2 linked regions of the Homo sapiens genome follow. The protein of the gene in region 1 interacts with the protein of each later gene in a biochemical or structural test. Each region holds a gene or a part of one and is shown on either strand. Other genes may lie near its edges.

Region 1 (15,207 bases):
TTCTGTGCACCGCTAAGGGCCCAGCACCTCCCTTCCTGGCCAATCCTCAAGGGATCCAGCTCCTTTCGAAGTATGATAAGTTGCCTTGACACCTGTGTGGTCAGTGTCCTTAGCAGGAGAATTTATGTGAATATTGCCTTTTCTTCCATGGAAGCCACCCAGCCTGGCCCAGAACCCTCATCACCTGCTCTTCTCCCCCAAGAAATATGAAGACCATTCCCAGTACAGACACTGAATTGCAACCTTACTCCCCTTCAGAAAATAAGGGAAATGTATTAAAGTGCCCTTTGATGGCCACTCCCCGACGTGCAGCTGTAGATGTGAGGCAGTTCCCTGGCGCCCCACTGTGGGTGCTAGCTGTTTTGCAGGGACTGAACAGGCCAGAGACCGTGAGCATGTCGGTTTGGAGTAGTTGGCACTTAAATGGGGTCAGCCTTCCACTGGGCACATTTCTGCCCACCTTCTTTTTATTTTTTAAACAATACACTTTTGTTAGTGCTTATTTTGTGGCAGGCACCAGGCAGTACCAGGGTGGGGGCAGAAATAAATCAAAGTCCTTGTCCTTGAAAAACAATCTCTTGCTGGAAGGCTGGATTCAGTAGACTGCTTGGGCAGGCTTGGGAAGGACCCAGGTGAGCACAGCATCCACCAGGCTGGCTGGCAGGTAGGAGGCAGGCAGCCAGAGCAGCTTGGCATCCCAACCTGGGCTGTAGCGGGTTCGGGGGTGTCGAGCAGTCAGGGCATGCTCCAGGCATCGGCTCACCTTGGTTAGGTCCGGGTCACAGATCAGGTTCATGATGCGCTGTTGCATTTTCAGGTCTGCAGCCCCATAGGTGGTTGCAATCAGTTTCCCTTCCTCACTCCAGCCCATCTTAGGTACTGTCTTCTGGGGCCCTGGGCTTGTCACCCTCAGTCCCCTCCTCAGTGTGGGGAGTGGGCAGGTTCCACATGGCCTGGGCACTCTTGTAACATCCTGTTCACCCTCAACCCTGCCCTGGGTGCCCCACCCACCTCCTAGCAGGCTTATGCAGGACTGGCCTTTCTGGTACTTGTTTCCCTTCATGTGCCCCTGTGTGGGCCTGGCTACTCACACTTGGTGAGGAAGGCCCCCCCATAGTGGGCCTGTGTGGCAGGAGGCAGCCGTGCCCAGCAGGCCTGCAGGGTTTTCTCCAGACTCTCCAGGTTGGTCACAGGGGTTCGGAAGAAGCCAGGCTCCACGATGGAGACTCGTATCCCAAAATGAGCTACATCCCGCCTAGAGTCGGGGCAGAGCGAAGTTGCTGGGTTCTTGCCCTATAGGGAGGGGACTTTGAGGGACATGGGTTGGGGAGCTGAGAAAGTTACCACAGACCAGGGACAAGAGTTTTGACGGAGATGCCTACTGCCCCGGGACAAGGGTCAAGTGGGGTAGAGGGAGGAAAGTATTTTTGAGGTTTGTTTTCTTTGATCTAGAGCAGGGGTCAGCACGTTTTTTTCTTAAAGGGCCAGAGAGTTAATATTTTAAGCATGGCAGGCCAAGAAACAAAATTAATGATATTATCAGGTACTTATATAACAGTTTACAATGTAACCATTTAAAAATAAAAAAAACCATTATCAGCTTGTAGGCAGCTGGCCAGATCTGGCTTGAGTACTGAGTTTGCCGATTCCTGACCTAGAGGAACCCCATTCCCTTGCTCCCAAAACACATGGTTGAGCCCTGAGTGCTGGATATTGAAGGGTATAGTCTCGTATTTGCTGGAGGGTAAGCTGATGGGGAAAGTGGGGATACATCCCACTGCCCTGGCACAGATGTAGAAATCCAAGTATAGGTAAGGAGCAGGAGGGAAGGGGATAAAAAAAAATTCAAGTATAAAGTATGTGTTCCAGTATGCAGTGGCTCACACCTATAATCCCAACACTTTGGGAGGCCCAGGCGGAAGCATCGCTTGAGGCCGGGAGTTGGAGACAAGTCTGGTCACCACAGCAAGACCCCATCTGTAAAAAAATACTAGCCAGGCATGCTGGCACGCGCCTGTGGTCTCAGCTACTCAGGAGGCTGAGGCGGATATCGCTTGAGCTGCTTGAGCCTAGGAGTTTGAAGTTCAGTGGGCCGTGACTGCACCACTGCACTCCACCCTGGGTGAGAGCAAGGCCTTGTCTCAAAACTAAAAGTATGTGTCCCATGATGCTGCCTGAAAAATTAAGGCTGAGAGACAGGAGACATTCAGGTTATTTGCTGAGTGATGGTGACAAACGCAGGCTTCCTTAGAAGGTAGACTAAGCTTAGGCGCCTTATACTCCTGCTAAGAACTCAGGCCTTGGGCCGTGTGTGGTGGCTCATGCCTGTAATCCCAGCACTTTGGGAGGCCGGGTCGGGTGGATCACCTGAGGTCAGGAGTTCAAAACCAGCCTGGCCAACATGGTATAACTCCATCTCTACTAAAAATACAAAAAAATTAGCTGGGAGTGGTGGCACGTGCCTGTAAGCCCAGCTAATCGGGAGGCTGAGGCAGGAGAATCACATGAACCTGAGAGGCAGGGGTTGCAGTGAGCTGAGATCTCGCCATTGCACTCCAGCCTAGGCAACAAGAGCAAAACGCTTAAAAAAAAAAAAACAAAAAAAAACTCAGGCCCTACTCCCGTTGTCCTCATCATGTCTCCTTTGTGCTCCCACGGAACTTTGAACCTTATTGTTTAAAGACGAGAGGCAAGGCCGGGCGTGGTGGCTCACACCTGTAATCCCAGCACTTTGGGAGGCTGAGGTGGGCGGATCACGAGGTCAGGAGTTTGAGACCAACCTGGCCAACATAGTGAAACCCTGTCTCTACTAAAAATACAAAAATAAGCCAGGCATGGTGGCGCATGCCTGTAGTCCCAGCTACTCGGGAGGCTGAGGCAGGAGAATCGCTTGAACCCCGGGGGTGGAAATTGTGGTGAGCCAAGATCGCGCCACTGCACTCCAGCCTGGCGACAGAGCAAGACTCCATCTCAAAAAACAAAAAACAAACACGTTAAAAATGGGTAAAGAGAAGTAATCTACTTATGGTCACAAAGCTTACATAAGGGTAGACTTCATTGAACCCATGAAGTCTAGCCCTAAACTGTCTCTTCTTAACTATTCCAATGTGCTGTATCTTAACCACCTCTGCTGGCCCACGTTTGTTGAGTGGGCTGCTGTTAGTCCTGGAACCCAGAGCCCTGTACCCCTCACCTCAGGCTGTCAGAGAAGGCCTCCAGGCCAAATTTGGAGACACAGTAGCCCCCACCATTGGCTGCCAGGCGACCCAGGACGCTGGTGATGTTGATCACCCGGCCCCGGGCTTGCTGCAGCAGAGGCAGCAGGGCAAGGGTGACCCCGATGGGACCCATTGTGTTCACATTCAGCACCCGCTGGAAATCGTCCCGGGTCAGCCATGGTGTGGGTCCGATGATACCAGCCACACCAGCATTATTCACCAGACCAAAAAGCCCTGTGGGGAGATGAAAAGGATGCTGGGGGTAGGTGAGGCACTCCCACAGCTCCCTCTTCTTCCTGGGAGCATCTGAAAACTGCTTCTCCTCAAATTGTCCCTTTAGCTTACCACAGCCCTTGCAGGTGACTCCTGGGGTGACTGTGGGGATCAGGACACCCCACACCATATTCCTGGTGGTCTACCATACTTACCTGCTTCCTTAACGTGCATCTCCACCCACTTGGCTGCCTGCTGGACGCTCTGGGGATCAGTGATATCCAACAGGGTGGTGTGGAGGCGGGAGGAGGCCACCCGCTGCAGGTCCTCGGCCCCGGAGGGGGTCAGGCAGCTGGCCAGGACTCGGAAGCCTCTCTGGTCCAGCTGCAGTGCCAGAAGGCGCCCAAAGCCTGAGTCACAGCCGGTGATGAAGACAAAGGCATTGCTGGCGGGCAGGCTCTGCCGGTCCCTGAGCAACCACAGCACTGCCCAGAGTAAGGCACCCAGCAGAAGAGGCAGCCACATAGCTGGAGCCCAAGTGACCTACAGGTGGCAGCCTAGGCTGGGCAGAAAAACTTGTCCAGTTTACTGTGGCCCTCAAGCCCTTTCCCCTAATACCCTCCCTAGCTGGAAGCATCTGGTGTGAGCATATTGAGAAATTATCTGGTTGGCAGATAATTGGCCAACCATGGCTCATCTGTTCAAAGCAAAGATGTGGGCAGACCCTGTATTTGTGGCTAACTTAACTAAAACCACATGAGCCAGATCCTGTGTACAGACCTGCTGTATGGAGCAGAGGCATCTTTTTTTTTTTTTTTTTTTTTTTGAGATGGAGTCTCACTCTGTCGCCCAGGCTGGAGTGCAGCAGAGGCATCTTCTTGCTTGCCTCACACCACCTCTCCTTCTAAACCAGGGACACTGAACCTTCTATATGCAACCTGGGTCTTGTGTTTGGAATGATGTATAGGGCCAAGAGGTTTGCTGTGTGATACTGAGCATCTCACTGTCTCTCTCAACCTATTTTCTCATCTACCAAGTGGGGCTAAGACCCACCAGGTCCACCTCAGAGTTGTGGAGGATCAAAGGGGATAATGTGTGAGGAAGCATGTTAAAAGCTGAAAGTTTTGAGTTGGCAATACATGTAATATCTGGCTAGTCTTCTCAGTTCCCCCAGCTCCCAGTATCCACTTACCTCCTGTGGCGAAAGCTGGCAGGTACTACAGCGCCCGAAGCTTATTCTTTTGCTTTTGTTTAAGAGACTGCTCCCAGTCTTCCCAGCCTCCCACACTAACTACTGCTAAGGCCAAAGTCCGGAGTGGGTGGACTTGGATGCCAGGCGTATTAAGTGTATGTGTGACAGGGTGGGGATAGGACTGAGGAGGAGGAGGAGCCAGGGAGGCTGGAGCTTGCCTGGCTGAAGCCAGGACTTGGCAGAGGCCAGATTTGCCTAGGCTCCCCCCACCCCTTGGCTGTCTTTCTCAGCCTGGGTTCCTGACCATCTATGTCATGGTCTCCAAGGAGGAGGGAGCTGTCAAGGATGGCAGCTGCACTGCTCTGTTGGTAACGGTTACTGGACCTGTCATTCCTCCCCCTTCTCAGCCCTGAAGTGCCCCCAGGAATTAATCTCCCACCTGGCTCAGACTCATGACACTGCTTAGAGTTAGCCTGGGAGAGGCCATGAGCACGTGGAGAGGCAGAAAGCCAGAGCTGGGGACCAGGCCTGTACCTTGCCTTGTTTCTCTTCTGTAGGAAACAAGTCCTGAATTAGGAAGCTTGGGGCAGGGCTACTAGGACCTTCTCTCAGGAGGGATGGGAACTCCCACCCTCTGCTTGCCTAACAGACACCTGCACAAGGGCCATGGAGGAGAAGAGAGTTGGGATAGTAAGAGGAAGCTAGTTCCACCCTCTCCCCAAAAGGTACCTGTCCCTCAGGGAAACCACCTTTGAACCTTCCACTCCCACCCCCGACACTGGAGCTAGTAGCTCTCTGAAACACACCACAGAGAAACGGAGGCTTGTGTTTTATTCAAGGCTTGTCAGCCTCCCTCCTTCCCCCTGCGGGTGAGGTAGGAGGGATAGGGTTGGGGGAGGGAACAGGGGCTAGGAAGGGGCAGACTGCAGCTGCCCTTTGTAGACATATTCCAGTGCAGTGGCAATGGTGCGCATGTCCAGCTCGATGCTCCGAGCCCAGTTCTCCACATCCCCAATTTCCTGGGAAGGGGGAGAGGAGGTGGGAGCCCAGGAATCAGAATGGGTAGAGTATGGCTTCCAGTCTGGGGAATACGTTTTATTCATCTCCTGGAAAAGGCTTTACTTGGACCCACCAACTGCTTTTCTTTCTTTCTCTACCTTTTCTGACACTGGGGCTATAGATGGGGTTTCTGGGACCACCCTACTTCCTCCTTAACCTAAACCTGAGGTAACCTGACTGGAGGCAGCCAATGGGGGCCCAGGATTGGGGTGGTGAGGTAGGGAGTATGGCCCACCTTGAGTGCCTGGTTGAAGTTCTCCACCATTCCGATCCACTGGCCTGTCTGCTTGGCAAATTGGGCAGCCTGGACCTGTAGGGTCTTCACCTCATGGTCCAGCTTTCTCTGGTTCATGTAGGCCTGGGCCACACTGGGGGGTTGGAGGAGGGAGGAGATCAGCTCCAGCTAGTTGGGGGTGGTCTCCGGGACTAATATTCCATTGCAGCAGTGGGAGTTCAGCCAAGAATCAGGGCTCATAATTTTGGCCATTTTTGGATGTGATGCAAATGACTACCAGTACATGCAAATAAACCCAGCTCCTTCCTTTCACTCCCAGGATTCCCAGGAGAGCCAAGCTCGGAGCTGACTAGAAACATACCAGCTCCAAACCCCAAAAAGGAGTTCCTGCAGCTGAGTGGGGGAAGGGAGGGAAAACCTGGGGTGATATCCCTGAGGAAAAAGCTGGGAGGGAAAAAGGGGCATGGAAAAACTGGGAAAATCCAGCAGGAGGAACACATCTGGCAGTGATTGGAAGCCTAGGGATCTATGCAAGAAGTTGGAGAGGGAAATTGGGCCCCTCCCTGAAGCCGGGTTAGGATGGGAGTACAAACCCCCTCCCCAGGAACCCTGGGTCAAAAGAGGGTATCCCAGGGGTTTCTTCTCGGCTCTCAGTTGCTCTCCCAAGCCTTCGCTTTTGCCCACACAGATCAAGGAACACACACAAACACACACACACACACACACACACATGCTCTCCCTCCCTTCTGCCTTAGGCACTAGTTTTTCTTTTCAATCAAGGTATGGGCTGTGGTTACCATTACTACCATGGGGTTGGTGTCCCCAACCTTCTGCCAGTGTTTTTTGCCCTCCCCAACCCCTGCAATAATTGTTCTCCTTTATTGGCTGTTGAATTTTTCACTTCCCACCCCAGAGCTCTACTCAGCCAGGAGATTCCACATCCGGTGCCCCCACCCACTGGAATGTGTGGGGGCTGGAGCGGGGAAGGGGTTGGTGGGGGCTGAGGGAGTGGGCAGGACACCTGACAGGGGCCAAGATAGACTGAGCCTTTGTTTTCCTTTCCGGGGAATGAGAGGAGGCGTGGGCAGCAACACAAAACCCTTTCTAATCTGGCTTTGGCTTAGCTGCCCTCTAAGCTGAAAGTGGGGTGGCATCTAGCAAAGGAAAAGAAGAGGGAAAGGCCTGGGCCAATCTCACAAATGATGGGCACAGCAGAGCCCAGGAGGTGCCAATGTGGGAGGGAGGAAATGGGAGGGCAGACCCTGTTCCTTCTTTTTGGGAGACAGCTGGGTCACTGTCAAGGGTCGGGTAGGAACTGAAACAGACTCCCCTGAGAATTCCTGAACTTCTGGTTTTCCCCATTGACCACCTGCTTCTATATTCACACTGAGTAAAGAGAGCTGCCTGGAGAGAAGGGAGATCAGAGGCCCCAGCCACAACTTTCTTTCTCTCAACCTTCCCCCAAGATGAGTAACAAAGATGACCCCAGCCCCTGCATGGCTCACTTGGATGACTCAGTCTCTGGATTCACACCGAGCTGTTCTACTTGACCTGGGGTGGAAGGTACCATACTGCCTTTCTTCCAATAGGCAGACTAGCAAATCATCATCTCTGCACGCTTCTGGGTCACTTAGGGTCAAGAGACAATGTTCTTTGCTTTTTCCCAAGTCTTTGGCTGTTACTTGCATTCTCATTTAGGGCTGGGGCAGGGTGTGGTCCCTAGAGACCCAATAGGAAGGTAAGAGACAGCCTGGCTCTGCCATAGCTCCCGGAACAGGTTCTACTCTCACCACCACCAGCTCTGCCATCTCTTTCCTGCCAGCTGCTCCCCAGGCTTGCCAGAGGGTGGGAGGCAGAGGAGAGGGTGGTAAGCTGTAATGAAGGAGGGTGCTCTCCCTCCTGCTGAAGTGACAGCTGGACTTGGAAGGGTGAAGGGAGGTGGGCAGATGGCATCAAGTTGTAAATGCCAGGGAAGTTAACGTGGGGAAGGGGAAATCTGGCTGCTTCTCTAACCACGGCAGCTGTTCCTCCCTTGCCCAGTGCTAGGACTCAGAGTTGACTCAAGTTGCTCTACAAAGAGCTGGGAGGGGCGGGGTAGGATAGGGGAATTAGTGGAACATCCCACCCCTTCAACAGCTATTTGAGGGCCAGACTGGCCAGTGCCTAAACTTGGGCGGGGTGGGGAAGGAGGAAACTGATGTTGATAAGAGGTCCATACCCCACATTGAGGTGATCCACCAAAGCTTCTGTCAGGCAGGTCGCTGCAGTGATAGCCTCTCGCCTCCTCTTTTCTGGGGAGAGGGGGAAAAGGAATTGGAGGGGAGACTTGGTTTTTTGAGGGGTAGTGTTAAAGGTTCCCTACCCATCCATTACTATTCTGCTAGTTGCCGAAATTTCTTAACTAATCTCTGAATGCCGGAGCTGAAAAGGACCTTGCAAAACATAGCGCAACCTCTTTCATTTTAGAGATGAGGAAACTGGTACCCTGGGAGGGAAATGGACTCACTCAGGGACGCCAGGAAGTCAGCGGCAGCGCCCAGGACTCCTGACTCCCAGGCACTCTTTCTCCACTACTCGGCCGCAGAATCGGTAACTCCGAGATTTCCAGCCCGGACTCAGGAAACAAGTGCCCCACCTCCGTTCCGGTGGTTTCAGGCCTCCAAGAAGCCCATCTCTGGGGGGTTCCCCACACCCTCCTCCCTCCAGAGTCGCTCCTTCCCGCCGCCAGGACGAGAGGCTCCCAGGGCCAATAGGCAGGGCGCTCCGGGGCAGGGGCGGGGCTAAGGTGCGGCAGGTCGGGGATTGGGGGCGTTGCCGAGGGGACCGGAGTATTGCCCAAGGGACCGGAGCCAGTTGGCAAGGGAAAGGAGTTTCAAAAAAAGCCTCTCTGAAATTCCCTCTCCCCCATGCCCGTTGCCCGCTAGCTGGCGTCTTTCCCTGGATATGGTTAGTTACTCGAGATCCAGGCTCCGGGCTGAAGCTAGGCCGCGGCCGAAGAGAAAACGGCCGACAGGATATTTGGCTCACCCTGCAGCTCCTTGCGTTCATTCTGCTTGGCCTGGTGTTCTTTTAGGAGGCGGGACAGCATGGTCACGTCGGGCTGGGGGCTGGGTACGCCGGGCCCCCTCCGGCTCCGGAAGCTGGAACGCTCACCTCGGCTCCCCGGGGCCATGTCACGTGACCGCTGTGTCACGTGAGGTTGGGAACCGCCCTCTTGAGACCTTGGGTGAAGATCTTGGCGGGGAAGAGAGGTAGAGGGTTGCGGAGGGCAGGTGAAGTGTTCTTTATTGGGAGCTTAGTTTTTGGTGAGTGTTGGAAGAAGTATTTTCTAATACTTATATTGCCAAGCCAGTTTTTAACATTTCCTGTGGATCTCAGGCTTCGAGGGCTGGTGGTGTCAGGCCGTCTATCACCGTTTAATTGAGGGAGCAGAAGCTCCCTGGCCTCATTTAAATTATTCTCCTTCCCTCTCCTCACCTCCTGGCAGTGCTAGCTGGTTCTCAGTTGATTCCCAGTTCCTTCCCTCAAGGAGAGGATGCTTTCCTGTCTCTCCCAACCCTCTTTCTTCTCACTACCCCACTGAAGTCTCTCAGCTCTGGGTGATCATTGTAGAGAAGCATTTTAGGCACTTCAGACAGCCTCCTAGGGAGCTTGGCTAACTTGGCGGGCTGTGTGAATGTAGAATTTCATCTCTGTCCTTTTGTGGTCAGGAATGCGAACCCATTTCAGTGTTAGCAGAAGCGTAAGTGCTGTGCCAAAGTAAAAAGTAATTTATATAAGGCCTCTGTGAACTAAAAAGAAATGCTTCCGGGATTAACTCCAGCGAGAACAATTATAAACATCATGAGCATATTCTTGCTACTGGTACAATCTCTCTCGGTGCACCTTGCACTAACATGTTGGGTGACTTTGGGCAAGTTGCTCACCATTCTAGGTTATAGTTTTCTCTTTAGTAAAACTAGGAGAAGGGATTGGATTAAATCGGTGGTTCTCAACCCTGGCTAAGCATTAGAATCTAAACATTAGAATCACAGAAATCACAAGGCTTATAAAAATGCCGTGATTAGCCGGGTGCGGTGGCTCACGCCCGTAATCCCAGCACTTTGGGAGGCCGAGGCGGGCGGATCACGAGGTCAGGAGTTCGAGACCAGGCTGACCAACATGGTGAAACCTTGTATCTACTAAAAATACAAAATTTAGCCAGGCGTAGTGGCACAAGCCTGTAATCCCAGCTACTCAGGAGCCTGAGGCAGGAGAATCGCTTGAACCTGGGAGGCAGAGGTTGCAGTGAGCCGAGATCACGCCACTGAACTCCAGCCTGGGCGACAGAGTGGGACTCTGTCTCAAAAAAAAAAAAAAAAAAGCCTTGATTCCAGACTAATTAAATAGAATCTAAGGAGTGAAGACCAAACATCACTATATATATGTATGTATATATGTATGTATACGTATATATGTGTATATATGTATGTATACGTATATATGTGTATATATGTATGTATATGTATATATGTATATATAAAATTATTATTATTTTTGAGACAGAGTCTCGCTCTGTCGCCTAGGCTGGAGTGCAGTGGCATGATCTCAGCTGACTGCAACCTCCACCTCCCAGGTTCAAGCGATTCTCCTGCCTCAGCCTCCTGAGTAGCTGGGATTACAGGCATGTGCCACCACACCTGACTAATTTTTGTATTTTTTTTTTTGAGACGGAGTCTCGCTCTGTCGCCCAGGCTGGAGTGCAGTGGCGGGATCTCGGCTCACTGCAAGCTCCGCCTCCCGGGTTCACGCCATTCTCCTGCCTCAGCCTCCCAAGTAGCTGGGACTACAGGCGCCCGCCACTACGCCCGGCTAATTTTTTTTTTTTGTATTTTTAGTAGAGACGGGGTTTCACCGTTTTAGCCGGGATGGTCTCGATCTCCTGACCTCGTGATCCGCCCGCCTCGGCCTCCCAAAGTGCTGGGATTACAGGCGTGAGCCACCGCGCCCGGCCTAATTTTTGTATTTTTAGTAGAGATGGCATTTCACCGTGTTGGTTAGACTGGTCTTGAACTCCTGACCTCAGGTAATCTGCCCGCCTCGGCCTCCCAAAGTGCTGGGATTACAGGTGTGAGCCACCGTGCCTGGCCTTATCAGTATATTTTAAAAGCTGTTCTGGTGATTCTAATGTGTATCCAGGGTTGAAACTCACTGGGCTAAACCATATCTAAAACTATTTCCAGCTTTGGCATTCTCTCATTTTGTGATTCATTGGCATAGTTGAAGTTGACGTCATTATATTTACTTGCAGGGGGAGGAGAAATGGGTGCTGATTGCATTAGAAGAAAACATTCTTGAATTTTCTGAGTAAGATTTGAGAATTACTGATCAATGATTCATTCAACTATTTGCAGAATAGCATCCCAAATCCTGGGAGATGTGCAACTGTCAAAGGATTAGTGAGGAGAAGCACATGAAATGCTTAAGTGGCAGCATAAAGCAAAACATTTTAAGTGCCAAAATAAAAATTCTAATAAAAACGTTAGATACTGTGTGTATGTGTCTAAATTATATGTGTACTGTATCTTCTTTCTAAACATTTCTTAGTACTCATCATAGTCAAGCACTTTACATGTATGTATTCATTTAATCCCTAGAACAGTTCTGTGAAATATTATTACGAGTATCCCAAATTTGCAGATGAAGAATCTGAGGTACAAGGCAGTTAAGTAATAGAGTTCATTAGTGGTAGAGCTAGGATACAAATCCAGGCTATCTGACTCCAGAGCCTGAGTCTTACCGCTGTATACTGCATAAACCACAGTTGAGACCCCAGGAGGGTAGACCCAGAGCACTTTTCTGGGAATCTCTCTGTCTCTAATCATTATGCCCCTCTAGCTTGCTGGGCATGAGCTGTAGAGAATCCTGGCAGGGGAGGAGTGTTTGAGAAGAGGCTCTGCTCCAGAGAAGGGCTAATCAATAGAAGTGGGAAGAGTGAGAGCATCACAGAGCAGCCTGGCTCTGTCCTCCCCACTCTCTGGCTCCAGCTTCCAACTGCAGTGAGCAAGCAAAATAGAGGCAGATTGGAAATGCCTGGTGCCTCACCTCCAGAGCTGTGGGGCCTGGAAGAGAAGGACATGGGTTGGAAGTGTCAAGATAATGGTGACATGGGATAAGTGAAACAGAGGGTGAGGGCTAATGGGGGTTAGTGTTGGGGGGGTCTCAAAAGTGAGTCTAAATGTTAAGATTAGGCCAACTCAGGGAGAGTGTCAGGCCCATCCTGTATTACCCTCACCCTTCTTGGCACAACTGCCTGACATTTTCACAATCGGTGTAGAGACTGCCAGGATTCTGCAGACATTAGCCTCTCCCTTCTCTCCCACACACTGGCTGTTCCTTTGCCCTAGAGCTGAGCAGAGGACATGGGGTATCTGTATCTAGTGTCCCCATCTGATCTCTCTAGGGTTATCCTCCATCTGTTCTTTTTCTGGGCCTTTATTGTTCACTGTCTAACCTTAGTTTCTGCTGCAGTTGAAGCTCAGCTTCACTTGTCCTTGGTAGAGATGGACACAAGTCGCATACATATCTATCTGGAGAATGACTCTTGAAATTTGAAGTCTCTTTCTGCTCACCTCTCCTTACGATTTCCTACTCAGATTATTTTCCCTTGGACTGAATGAATGCAACTCCACACTCCTTTCTTCACTCATTTCCCTCTTCTTTTGAGGTCTCTTTCAGAGTTAGCTTTAATTAGCAAGCTCCAAACTGACTGGCTGGGCCAAACAGGGCTGGAAGCTGCTGAGTTGTTAGGGGTTGGATGAGGGCTGAGGGAGGACACAGAGTGAGTAGACAAGGCTTCACATACTGGGAGATCTGGCTGGGCTTCAAGAGAGGGGGTTGGTGGTGGTGTGGCTAAGTTCCAAATGTTGGCCTGAAGCCAGTGCTCAAAGAAAGGGGGCCCTTGAGACAGTCCAAATGGCTCCCTTTGGTAAGTGACCTCCCAGTCCTTCTCAAGTGTTAAGGGTTTCTTTTGGATCGTCAAAGACCGGAGCGGTCAAGCTGTTTCCCCACTGAATTCCCTCAATCACATTTATGTTCTTTTCCTCCCAGCCACTCCCATGGTTCAAGCTTTGACTACAACCAGAATTCAGAGGCAGGCAGAAGGATTCCAGTGCTGGAGAGGTGAGTGAAGTAAAAAAGTTCTCATGGTGTGCATGTTGGGACGGAAAAGCCTGACCTTGGGACATAAGCTCCAAGGCTCTGTTGCCAGATGAGGTGGAGGGAGAAGTTAGCCCTGAAGTGTGTGTTCTGGAAGTGTTTGCTTGTAAGCTAGAGACAACAGTTGCAAAAAGTGTGATTTGAGGGAGCTGAAAAATACTGATCTCAAAGTGGGGAAGAAGATGTTGAAAAGGGAAGGAGCTGGAGAAAGCCTCAGCTTCCACTCATACAAAAGCTAAAGGGCTAAAATCTTGGCTGGATCTGGACATTTCTCAACGTCTAAAATTTTGGAAATTTTTATAAAGATTATTAATCTTTCATTTTTACATTTAATTTATTTAAAAAGTTCAGTTTCTCAGTCATACTAGCCACATTTCTTTTTCTTTTTCTTTTTTTTTGAGACAGAGTCTCACTCTGTTGCCCAGGCTGAAGTACAGTGTATTAATCTATTCCATGGAGTGGAGTGGATAATCTATTCCATGGATTATCATTTTACTTTGTTAGTGGTATCCTTAGAAGCACAAAATTTTTAAATTTTTTTTTTTTTTTGAGGCAGAGTCTCACTGTGTCCCCCAGGCTGGAGTGCAGTGGTGCTATCTCTGCTCACTGCAGGCTCCGCCTTCTGGGTTCAAGCGATTCTTGTGCCTCAGCCTCCTGAGTAGCTGGGATTACAGGTGTGTACCACCACGCCCAGCTGATTTTTGTATTTTTAGTAGAGATGGGTTTTTGTCATATTGGCCAGGCTGGTCTCAAACTCCTGACCTCAAGTGATCCACCTCCCTCCCTCCCAAAGTGCTGGGATTACCATGTCTGGCTTGGAAATTATTTTGAAATAATTATAGATCAGAGGAAGTTGTAAAAATAGCACATGAAGTCTTGTGTACCTTTCACTCAGTTTCCCCTAATGGTGACATCTTATGTAACTGTAGCATAAAATCAAAACCAAAAAGTTGATATTGGTACAGTATTGTTAACTGGCCTGCAGACCTCACTCAGTTTTCACCATTTTTTACATGCATTTATTTGTTTGTTTGTAGTTCTGTGCAGTTTTATATCTTGTATAGATTTGGATAATCACCACCACAATCAAGATACAAAACCCATCACCACAAAGGAACCCCCTTGTGCTATTCCTTTATGTTTGTCCCCACCCCCCTCCATCCTTGTCCCCTGGCAGCCAGTAATCTGGTCTTCATTTCTATAGTTTTGTCATTTTGAGAATGGTATGCGAGTGGAATAATACAGTTTCAGCATTTTTTGTTTGGAGACAGGGTCTCACTCTATCACCCAGGCTGGAGTGCAGTGGCAAGATCATGGCTCACTGCAGCCTTCACCTCCTGGGCTCAAGTGACACTCCCGCCTAGCCTCCTGAGTAGCTGGGACCACAGATTTGGCTAACTTTTCTATTTTTTGTAGAGATGGGGGTCTCCCTATGTTGCCCAGGCTGGTCTCCAACTCCTGGGCTCAAGTGATCCTCCTGCCTTGGCCTCTCAAAGTGCTGGGATTGCAGGCATGAGCCACTGTGCCCAGCTCAGCATTAATTTTTAATTTAACTAATTCCTAAGCTCTTGACTGAAATACAAGAAGTTCTCTAACAGTTTATTTATTTTAATATTGAGCTTACCGCATTCTCTGGATCCTTCTAGTTTCTTTTTTTTTTCTTTTTTTCTGATGTGGAGTCTCTGTCACCCAGGCTGGAGTGCAGTGGTGCCATCTCAGCTCACTGCAACCTCCGTCTCCTGGGTTTAAGTGATTCTTGTGCCTCAGTCTCTGGAGTAGCTGGGATTACAGGTACCCGCCACCACACCCGGCTAATTTTTGTATTTTTAGTAGAGACAGGGTTTCACCGTGTTGGTCCGGCTGGTCTTGAACTTCTGATCTCAGGTGATCCGCCTGCTTCGGCCTCCCAAAGTGCTGGGATTATAGGCGTGAGCCACCGCGCCCGGCCCCGTCTAGTTTCTTAATTTCCCTCTTCACCTACGATATTATCTTCCACTCCAACATTCTGGTCTCATTTCTCCTTGAGAGAAATCTACATGTCTAAATTTACTAGGCTGGTCTAGCACGCTCTTGTGTGTTCCCCTCCCTCCTTT
Region 2 (10,392 bases), on another chromosome or scaffold:
AAGTTGTTCATGAAAGGGTTGCACTGGCTCATAAATTTGGGAAATGCTGAGTTAAACTGGTTTTTTGTTTCTTTTCTTGAGAGAGGGTCTCACTTTGTCACCCAGGCTAGACTGCAGTGGCAAGATCATAGTTCACTGCAGCCTTGACCTCCTGGGCTCAAGCAATCCTTCTGCCTTGGCCTCCTAAGTAGCTGGGACCACAGGTGCAAACCACAACATCGAGGTATTTATTTTATTTTTTTAGAGACAGGGTCTCATTATGTTGACCAGGCTGGTCTGAAACTCTCAGGCTGTCAATTCTCCCATCTCAGCCCCACAAAGTGCTGGGATTGAAGGTGTGAGCCATTGTGCCCAGCCTAAACTGGTTTTCTAGATTTCTTTGCTACAGGACTTCTCAGAGCCTTTGCATTGCTTACTTTCATTAGTAACTTCCAATATAATTTGTAACATTTCTCAAACTTAATTAACCAAAGAACAACTCCCCATTTTTGTGGAGCATTTTTTGGCACTACCACATAGATCATTTCAGAACCTTTGTCTTGTCGTAGAACTTGCCCTATTTTATAATTATTTTGTGCAGGCCTCTCCCCTTCTAAACTGTGGGCTGCTTAAGGCAGAGACAGTATTTTATTTATCTCTGGATGCACAGTGCCTAATATATAATAGCTACTCAATACATGTTGGTTGAAAGAATATGGGAAAGGGAAGGTAAGAGAGGAAGGGAAAGAATGGTGAAATAAGAGAAAGAAGGCTTCTTGAGGCTGGGCGTGGTGACTCACACCTGTAATCCCAGCACTTTGGGAGGCCAAGGTGGGTGGATCACCTCGGTCAGGAGTTCGAGAGCAGCCTGGCCAACATGGTAAAACCCCAACTCTACTAAAAATACAAAAATTAGGCAGGCATGGTGGTGGGTGCCTGTAATCCCAGCTACTCGGGAGGCCGAGGCAGTAGAATTGCTTGAACCTGGGAGGCAGAGGTTGCAGTGAGCCAAGATCGCACCACTGCACTCCAGCCTGGATGAAAGAGCAAGACTCTGTCTAAAAAAAAAAGAAGAAGCCTTCTTGATTTTTACATTTAACATCCCAGAAACCCAGTACTTAGATTCTACCATAAATATTTTATTCTACTTGCTTCATCACATCTATCCATCTATCCATCCCTCGCATCAGCCATGGATCCATCTTCACTTCCTTTTTACTTGTGTGTGTTTGCAAGCTTATTTTTCCTCAGATCGTGGAAACACCTTAATTCTGAAATCCTCTTGGAACAAGCATCCTGATAGACTGTATTGTTCAGCTCCTCCTTGCTCATTCCCAGCACCTCCCACTCTTCCCCTGACACAGGCAGGCCTCTCTTTGTGGAATGAGCGGTGCCTCCTAGAGGGAGGGAACTTTTTAGAGCACGAAGAGTCTGCCCACCCCAGGGGTCAGAGACACTGCTTGCTCGCTCTCATTACCATGTTTAATTTTAAGGAAAGTGCAGAATGTTTCCGGACTTGGGTTTTCCCGCTTCTCAAAGGAAAGGTTGAGGCCTAGGATTCCATAAGGTCCTCCCTATCCCAGGATAATTATTACTGACCAAAGAAGGGATTGCATTGACCAAACTCTTGCCCACTGGAACTGCTCCCAGGGAGGGTCAGATGATGTCACCTTCCCCAGGAGCCAGGGGGCAGGTGTGAAGTCCCTGGGCAGACACCCCTGTGTTGATCTCGCTTCTTGAGGAGGGAGAGCCTTGTGTGTTGAATGCTGAGAGGGCTTTAGAATGGCCGAGACTCCATTTCTAACCAGCTGTGTGGCTTTGGGAAGACCCCTCACCTCCCGGACTCTCAGTATCCTAGTCTATGAAAAAGGGGATTATACTCTCTCACATCTGGAAGGGTTGGCTGAGATAAGGCTGGTAGGGCACAGGCCACGGTACAGAAAGGGGGCACAACAAATGTAAGTCATCCCCATCCCCGCCTTCAGCCAGGCAGAGGGCAGCAGGCCAGGGAGCCCATGGTTGTCTGCCAATGTTGCCAGCACAGGTGTCTGGGCCAATGAGGGTGCATCTCCTCTCACAGAGGCACTATTGTTCCCACCAGGGGAGCTGGACGTGAGCGTGACTCTTGGGAAGGGAGGAGGGAAGATTAGAGGCACTAGAAGGGCTGTGAGCAGAAGATAATGCTGCAGAAAGCTCTGCTCCCCCAGAATGACCTCGTGGCCTGCTAGTATCCCGAAAAGTTCTGTGCAGCCCACTTCTATCAGGGCTGGGCCATTAACTCAAAAGTGTTCTTGGTGCACAGGAATGTTCTTTGTGACAGAGTCTATCACCCAGCATTGACAGAGCCTCTTCTGAGCCCTCATGGTTCCTTCCCACGGGGCAGCCTGGGCTCTCATTCTCATTATCTCCAAGGAGCCTCACACTCTATGAAGTACCTGGGGAAAAAACCATCATCCCATCTGTATTCGTTTGCTATGGCTGCCATCACAAAGTACCATAGACCGGGTGGCTTAAACAACAGAAATTCGTTTTCTCACCGTTCTGGAAGCTGCAAGTCTGAGATCAAGGAGTTGGCAGAATCAGTATCCTCTGCGGCCTTTCTCCTTTCTTTGTAGGTGGCATTCTCTCCCTGTGTCTTCCCATGGTCTTCCCACTGTAACTGTCTGTGTCCTCTTCTTATAAGGATACCAGCCATATTGAATTAGGGCCCACACTAATGACCTCATTTTAACTTAATTGCCTCTTTAAAGGCACAATCTGTAAATAACAGTCACATTCTGAGGTCCTGGGGGTTAGAGCTTCCACATATGGATTGGGTGGGTGGGGAGTGGACAGATGCAGTTTGGCCCATGTAGCATCTTACAGGTGAAACAACTGAGGCCTAAGAGGGTCAGTGGCTCATACTGGGCAGGGCCAGACCTAGAATCAGGACAGGAGACCCTCCCTCTCTGCCTCCACTCACAACCCAGCCTCCACTTGCCTGTCCCAAAGAGGAAGAGGATGGTGGGTGAGGGCAGTCATCCGTCTGACTCCCCACCAAACCTCCCAGCTGGTGGCAGTGACAGGTCAGGCAAGCCACTGTGCTGGGCACAGACAGGAATAGCAGAAGGGGAGACATTCTCTAGGGCAGTGCTTTTCAAACTTTTATATGCGTGGGGGAATTATACCTGGTGAACTCCATTAAAATTAATTATTTATTTATTTATTTATTTATTTATTTATTTATTTTTGGGTTTTTTTGAGTCAGGGTTTCGCTGTGTTGCCCAGGCTGGAGTGTACTGGCTGTTCACAGGTACAATCATAGCTTACTACAGCCTCGAATTCCTGGACTCAAGAGATCCTCCTTCCTCAGCCTCCTCAGTAGCTGAGACTACAGAGCTGTGCCACCGTTCTGGCTAAAAATTAAGTAATTTTAAGTAATTAAGTTAAAATGAGGTCATTAGGATGGGCCCTAATCCAATCCAGGCTCTGACTTGGCCTCTCTGGGGAAGGGCCCAAGACTCTGCATTTCCCACAGGCTGCCAGGTAAGGCCAATGCTGCTGGTTTCTAGACCACACTGAGCAGTAGCAAGGTTTAGACCAGCACGCTCCATGAGAAATAGATGTCATTCTAAATTTTCTAATATCACATCAAGAAAAGTAAAAAGAAACAGGTGGGCCAGGTGCCATGGCTCAGGCCTGTAATCACAACACTTTGGGAAGCCAAGGTAGGAGAACAGCTTGAAACCAAGAGTTTGAGTCCAGCCTGGGCAACATAGTGAGACCCCATTTCTATAAAAAATAATTGTAAAAATTAGTTGAGGCCGGGCGTGGTGGCTCATGCCTGTAATCCCAGCACTTTAGGAGGCCGAGGCGGGCGGCTCACTTGAGGTCAGGAGTTCGAGACCAGCCTGGCCAACATGGTGTAACCCCGTCTCTACTAAAAATATATACAAAAATTAGCTGGGCGCGGTGGTGCCCACCTGTAGTCCCAGCTACTCGGGAGGCTGAGGCAGGAGAATCGCTTGAACCCAGGAGGTGGAGGCTGCAGTGAGCTGAGTTCACATCACTGCACTCCAGCCTGGGCGACAGAGCAAGACTCCATCTCAAAATAAATAAATAAATAAATAAAAAATCAGTTGGGCAGGTTAGCGCCTGCTGATAGTCCTAGCTACTCAAGGGGCTGAGGCAGGAGAATTGCCTGAGCCCAGGAGTTGGAGGCTGCAGTGACCTATGATCATGCCAGTGCACTCCAGGCTGGGCGACAGAGAGAGAGCCTACCCCTAAAAAAAAGAAACAGGGCTAGGCCTGGTGGCTCACGTCTGTAATCCCAGTAATTTGGGAGGCCAAGGTGGGATGATCGCTTGAGTCCAGAAGTTTGAGATCAGCCTGGGCAACAGAGTAAGACCTTGTCTCTACAAAAAACAAACAAACAAAATATGGCCGGGCATGGTGGCTCATATCTGTAATTCCAGCACTTTGGGAGGCTGAGGCAGGTGGATCACCTGAGGTCAGGAGTTCAAAACCAGCCCGGCCAACATGGTGAAACCCAGTCTCTACTAAAAACACAAATAGCTGGGTGTGGTGGTGGGCACCTGTAATCCCAGCTACTCAGGAGGCTGAGGCAGAAGAATTGCTTGAACCCGGGAGGCAGAGGTTGCAGTGAGCTGAGATAGTGCCACTGCACTGTAGCCTGGGTGACAGAGCGAGACTATGTCTCAAAAAAAAAAAATTTTAGTTGGATGTGGTGGTGCACTCCTGTGGTTTCAGCTGCTCAGGAGGCTGAGGGAGGAAGATGGCTTGAGCTAGGGAGATCGAGGTCGCAGTGAGCCATAATCATGCCACTGCACTCTAGCCAGGGTGAGAGAACAAAACCCAGTCTCAAAAAAAGAAATGGGAAAAATTAGCTTGTGTGTGTGTGTGTGTGTGTGTGTGTGTGTGTGTGTGTGTGTATTTTTTTTTTGAGATGGAGTCTCACTCCATCACCCAGGCTGGAGTGTAGCGGTGTGATCTCAGCTCACTGCAACCTTCACCTCTAAGGTTCAAGCAATCCTCCTACCTCAGCCTCCTGAGTAGATGGGATTACAGGTGCCTGCCACCATGCCCAGCTAATTTTTGTTTTTTTGCAGAGACTAGGTTTCACCATGTTGGCCAGGCTGGTCTCAAACTCCTGACCTCAAGTGGTCCTCCCTCCTTGGCCTCCCAAAGTGCTGGGATTACAAGCTCTAATATATTTTTAACCCAATATATAACAAACATGATGATGATAATTTCAGAACATTAAGCCTTATAAAAAGTGTTAATGGGATATTTTACATTATTTTGTTTGTACTAAGTCTTTAGATACTTTATAGCACATCTCACTTGGGACTCTAAATTCTTATGAGAAATACTTCACAAAATTTACAGTTAAAAAAATAGGATCACACATATAAATTGTTCTAAACCTACTTAAAAGTTTTCAAAACACTGAATCCAGTATTAGTTTTTAAATTTAAATTTAAGTTAATTAAAATCAAATAAAATTAAAAATGTAAGGCTGGGCACAATGGCTCACGCTTGTAATCCCAGCACTTTGGGAGGCCAAGGCGGGGTGATCACTTGAGCTCAGGAGTTCGAGACTAGCCTGGCCAACATGTGAAACCCTGTCTCTACTAAAAATACTAAAATTAGCCGGGCATGGTGGTGCGTGCCTGTAATCCCAGCTACTTGGGAGGCTGAGGCATGAGAATCACTTGCACCTGGGAGGCGGAGGTTGCAATAAGCTGAGATCGCACCACTGCACTCCCGCCTGGGTGACAGAGCGAGACTCTGTCCCCTGCCAGACTCCCACAAAAATTTAGTTCTTGGGTCGTATTACCCTATTTATAAAAATTTTTTTTATAGTGAGACCCAATCTCTAGCATTACCCCATTTCGAATGCTGAAAAGCTACATGGGGCTAGCGGCTACTATATAAGACAGCATAGGACTAGACCACCAGGAAGAAGAATGACATAAATGAAGGATCCCCAGCTCCACAGAGGACTTGGGACAGAAACAGCCCAAGACCCAGACAGCAGCCAGAGTAGGAGCCCAGGGAAAGGGCTTTTGGAAACAAAGAGCTCAAGGTGACTCAAATGCACCCCAAGATCTAAGCACCAGGCATTGCAGCCTGCTCTGGAGGAAGGGGTCGGCAGGAGATGGGGTGGTGGGAAGAAATCCCAAACCTGCCAAAGTAGGAATGGGTGGAAAAGCAAGAACTATGTCCAGGGAAAATAAAAAAGCACTTCTGGGGTTGGATTCTGGAGAGCGACCTGTGCAGGGGAGCTTGACCTTCTCCTGGGCACCTCTAGGAGGCAAAACCAGGACCAAGGGTGGTCATTATAGGAAGCTGCTTGGGGCTCAAACCAACAATGAGGTTTTAAACAAGGAGAGCTCCCCAGTAATGGAAACAGGGAGCTTCCCGCCCTTGGAATCCTAGACAGAAAATGTTCTACAGGAATTACCTCCTCCTCATCCAGTGGAATAGCAAAACAGAGGCTGGGAAGTTACCTGTTGAGAGGCTGCAGAGGGGTTTCTTCCTGTACAAAGGATTGAATAATAAGTTCCCTCCAGTTAGGCACCTATTGATACTGTATTTGGAGTAACTGACCTTTCCAGAGGACTTATTGTCAGGCAGCTAAACCCCTGAACTAAGCACTTTACTGCCATTTCATCCGCACTAAAGTCATGAGCCTGGTCCTCTAGTTTTCTACACTTCTTAGAGGAGGAAACTGAGCCGATGAGTTTTGAAGTCATGTTTCCCGGCCAGAAGATGCTCGAGCGAGGCTTTACAGGCGGGCAGTCTGGTTCCAGGGCATGCCACTGCACCACACTGCCCAGAAGGAGGCTCAGCCTGTCTTGTCCTCTCCCTGCTTGGCCTTAACCAGCCACATTTCTCAACTGACCCCACTCACTGCAGAGGTGAAAACTACCATGCCAGGTCCTGCTGGCTGGGGGAGGGGTGGGCAATAGGCCTGGATTTGCCAGAGCTGCCACTGTAGATGTAGTCATATTTACGATTTCCCTTCACCTCTTATTACCCTGGTGGTGGTGGTGGGGGGGGGGGGGTGCTCTCTCAGCAACCCCACCCCGGGATCTTGAGGAGAAAGAGGGCAGAGAAAAGAGGGAATGGGACTGGCCCAGATCCCAGCCCCACAGCCGGGCTTCCACATGGCCGAGCAGGAACTCCAGAGCAGGAGCACACAAAGGAGGGCTTTGATGCGCCTCCAGCCAGGCCCAGGCCTCTCCCCTCTCCCCTTTCTCTCTGGGTCTTCCTTTGCCCCACTGAGGGCCTCCTGTGAGCCCGATTTAACGGAAACTGTGGGCGGTGAGAAGTTCCTTATGACACACTAATCCCAACCTGCTGACCGGACCACGCCTCCAGCGGAGGGAACCTCTAGAGCTCCAGGACATTCAGGTACCAGGTAGCCCCAAGGAGGAGCTGCCGACCTGGCAGGTAAGTCAATACCTGGGGCTTGCCTGGGCCAGGGAGCCCAGGACTGGGGTGAGGACTCAGGGGAGCAGGGAGACCACGTCCCAAGATGCCTGTAAAACTGAAACCACCTGGCCATTCTCCAGGTTGAGCCAGACCAATTTGATGGCAGATTTAGCAAATAAAAATACAGGACACCCAGTTAAATGTGAATTTCAGATGAACAGCAAATACTTTTTTAGTATTAAAAAAGTTCACATTTAGGCTCACGCCTGTAATCCCAGCACTTTGGGAGGCCGAGGCAGGCAGATCACCTGAGGTCAGGAGTTCGAGACCAGCCTGGCCAACATGGTGAAACCCCATCTCCACTAAAAATACCAAAAATTAGCCAGGCGTGCTGGTGGGCACCTGTAGTTCCAGCTACTCAGGAGGCTAAGGCAGGAGAATTGCTTGAACCTGGGAGGCAGAGGTTGCAGTGAGCTGAGATCGCACCATTGCACTCTAGCCTGGGCGACAAGAACAAAACTCCATCTCAAAAAAAAAAAAAAAAAAAAAGTTCACATTTAACTGGGCATTCTGTATTTAATTGGTAATCTGAGATGGCAGGGAACAGCATCAGCATGGTGTGAGGGATAGGCATTTTTTCATTGTGTACAGCTTGTAAATCAGTATTTTTAAAACTCAAAGTTAATGGCTTGGGCATATTTAGAAAAGAGTTGCCGCACGGACTTGAACCCTGTATTCCTAAAATCTAGGATCTTGTTCTGATGGTCTGCACAACTGGCTGGGGGTGTCCAGCCACTGTCCCTCTTGCCTGGGCTCCCCAGGGCAGTTCTGTCAGCCTCTCCATTTCCATTCCTGTTCCAGCAAAACCCAACTGATAGCACAGCAGCATTTCAGCCTGTCTACCTCTGTGCCCACATACCTGGATGTCTACCAGCCAGAAAGGTGGCTTAGATTTGGTTCCTGTGGGTGGATTATGGCCCCCAGAACTTCCCTGTGCTTGCTGGGGGTGTGGAGTGGAAAGAGCAGGAAATGGGGGACCCTCCGATACTCTATGGGGGTCCTCCAAGTCTCTTTGTGCAAGTTAGGGTAATAATCAATATGGAGCTAAGAAAGAGAAGGGGAACTATGCTTTAGAACAGGACACTGTGCCAGGAGCATTGCAGAAATTATATGGTTTTCACGACAGTTCTTTTTGGTAGGTACTGTTATTATCCTCAGTTTGCAGATGAGGAAACTGAGACCCAGAAAGGTTAAATAACTTGCTAGGGTCACACAAGTCATAACTGACAAAGCCTGATTCAAACCCAGGTCTCCCTAACCTTTAAGGTTTCTATGACGCCAGCTCTCCTAGGGAGTTTGTCTTCAGATGTCTTGGCTCTAGGTGTCAAAAAAAGACTTGGTGTCAGGCAGGCATAGGTTCAAGTCCCAACTCTGTCACTTACCAACTGTGACTAGGTGATTGAACTGACCATGGAACCTGGTCACATGCAGGAGCAGGATGGTGAAGGGTTCTTGAAGGCACTTAGGCAGGACATTTAGGCAGGAGAGAAAACCTGGAAACAGAAGAGCTGTCTCCAAAAATACCCACTGGGGAAGCAGGTTGTCATGTGGGCCATGAATGGGACCTGTTCTGGTAACCAAGCATTGCTTATGTGTCCATTACATTTCATAACACTTCCATCCTACTTTACAGGGAACAACCAAGACTGGGGTTAAATCTCACAGCCTGCAAGTGGAAGAGAAGAACTTGAACCCAGGTCCAACTTTTGCGCCACAGCAGGCTGCCTCTTGGTCCTGACAGGAAGTCACAACTTGGGTCTGAGTACTGATCCCTGGCTATTTTTTGGCTGTGTTACCTTGGACAAGTCACTTATTCCTCCTCCCGTTTCCTCCTATGTAAAATGGAAATAATAATGTTGACCCTGGGTCTGAGAGAGTGGATTTGAAAGTACTTAGTGCATCACAAAGCACAGAACACACTTCCAGTCTCGTGATTATGTACTTATGTAACTGGTCATCACCCATCTTGAGAATGAATGCATTGGGGAAAGGGCCATCCACTAGGCTGCGAAGTTTCTGAGGGACTCCTTCGGGCTGGAGAAGGATGGCCACAGGAGGGAGGAGAGATTGCCTTATCCTGCAGTGATCATGTCATTGAGAACAGAGCCAGATTCTTTTTTTCCTGGCAGGGCCAACTTGTTTTAACATCTAAGGACTGAGCTATTTGTGTCTGTGCCCTTTGTCCAAGCAGTGTTTCCCAAAGTGTAGCCCAAGAACCATCTCCCTCAGAGCCACCAGGAAGTGCTTTAAATTGCAGGTTCCTAGGCCACAGCCTGCACCTGCAGAGTCAGAATCATGGAGGTTGGGACCCAGGCACCTGCGTTTCTAACAAATGCCTCGGGTGATTCTGATGCAATTGAAAGTTTGAGATCCACAGTTCTGAGACAATAACAGAATGGTTTTTCTAACCCCTGCAGCCCTGACTTCCTATCCTAGGGAAGGGGCCGGCTGGAGAGGCCAGGACAGAGAAAGCAGATCCCTTCTTTTTCCAAGGACTCTGTGTCTTCCATAGGCAACATGTCAGAAGGGGTAAGTACCCTGTCCTCCAGGGCTCTCCTCCACCCACCTTCCCTCTCTTCTCTCTCTTCCCTCTCCCTCCCTCCTTACTTCTCTATCTTATGCTCTGCCCGGGAATATAGGCACACACTTCTATAACCCCTGTGTGGGTCCTGACCCCACAAAAGGAGGAGGCTTAACAATGACCTTGGGCAAAAGAACTGAAGGTCTGAGCAGGCCCATTTCCCTGGCTGGCTCAGGCTGATGCGGTTGGCTGTTCCTCTTTTTCCTTTCTCTGCCCAGGTGGGCACGTTCCGCATGGTACCTGAAGAGGAACAGGAGCTCCGTGCCCAACTGGAGCAGCTCACAACCAAGGACCATGGACCTGTCTTTGGCCCGTGCAGCCAGCTGCCCCGC

What was found.
Region 2: the proteins of RDH5 (region 1) and RLBP1 form a complex in vitro, tested with the Homo sapiens proteins (one study listed by BioGRID).

What each region holds. Positions count from the first base shown.
Region 1 is NC_000012.12:55,709,934-55,725,140, reverse strand, and holds RDH5 (retinol dehydrogenase 5), read right to left. Parts: upstream 4,749-15,207; 5' UTR 4,624-4,748; intron 3,994-4,623; exon of another isoform or gene 3,989-3,993; 5' UTR 3,957-3,988; coding exon 3,647-3,956; intron 3,453-3,646; coding exon 3,194-3,452; intron 1,607-3,193; exon of another isoform or gene 1,256-1,606; coding exon 1,092-1,255; exon of another isoform or gene 820-1,091; coding exon 596-819; 3' UTR 436-595; downstream 1-435. Other genes in the region: BLOC1S1 (biogenesis of lysosome-related organelles complex 1 subunit 1), read right to left, coding at 5,532-5,642, 5,918-6,050, 8,136-8,208, 8,945-9,089. UniProt on the Homo sapiens protein: Catalyzes the oxidation of cis-isomers of retinol, including 11-cis-, 9-cis-, and 13-cis-retinol in an NAD-dependent manner. Has no activity towards all-trans retinal.
Region 2 is NC_000015.10:89,218,580-89,228,971, reverse strand, and holds the start of RLBP1 (retinaldehyde-binding protein 1), read left to right. Parts: upstream 1-7,392; 5' UTR 7,393-7,437; exon of another isoform or gene 7,438-9,112; 5' UTR 9,113-9,235; exon of another isoform or gene 9,236-9,896; 5' UTR 9,897-9,996; coding exon 9,997-10,008; intron 10,009-10,278; coding exon 10,279-10,392. UniProt on the Homo sapiens protein: Soluble retinoid carrier essential the proper function of both rod and cone photoreceptors.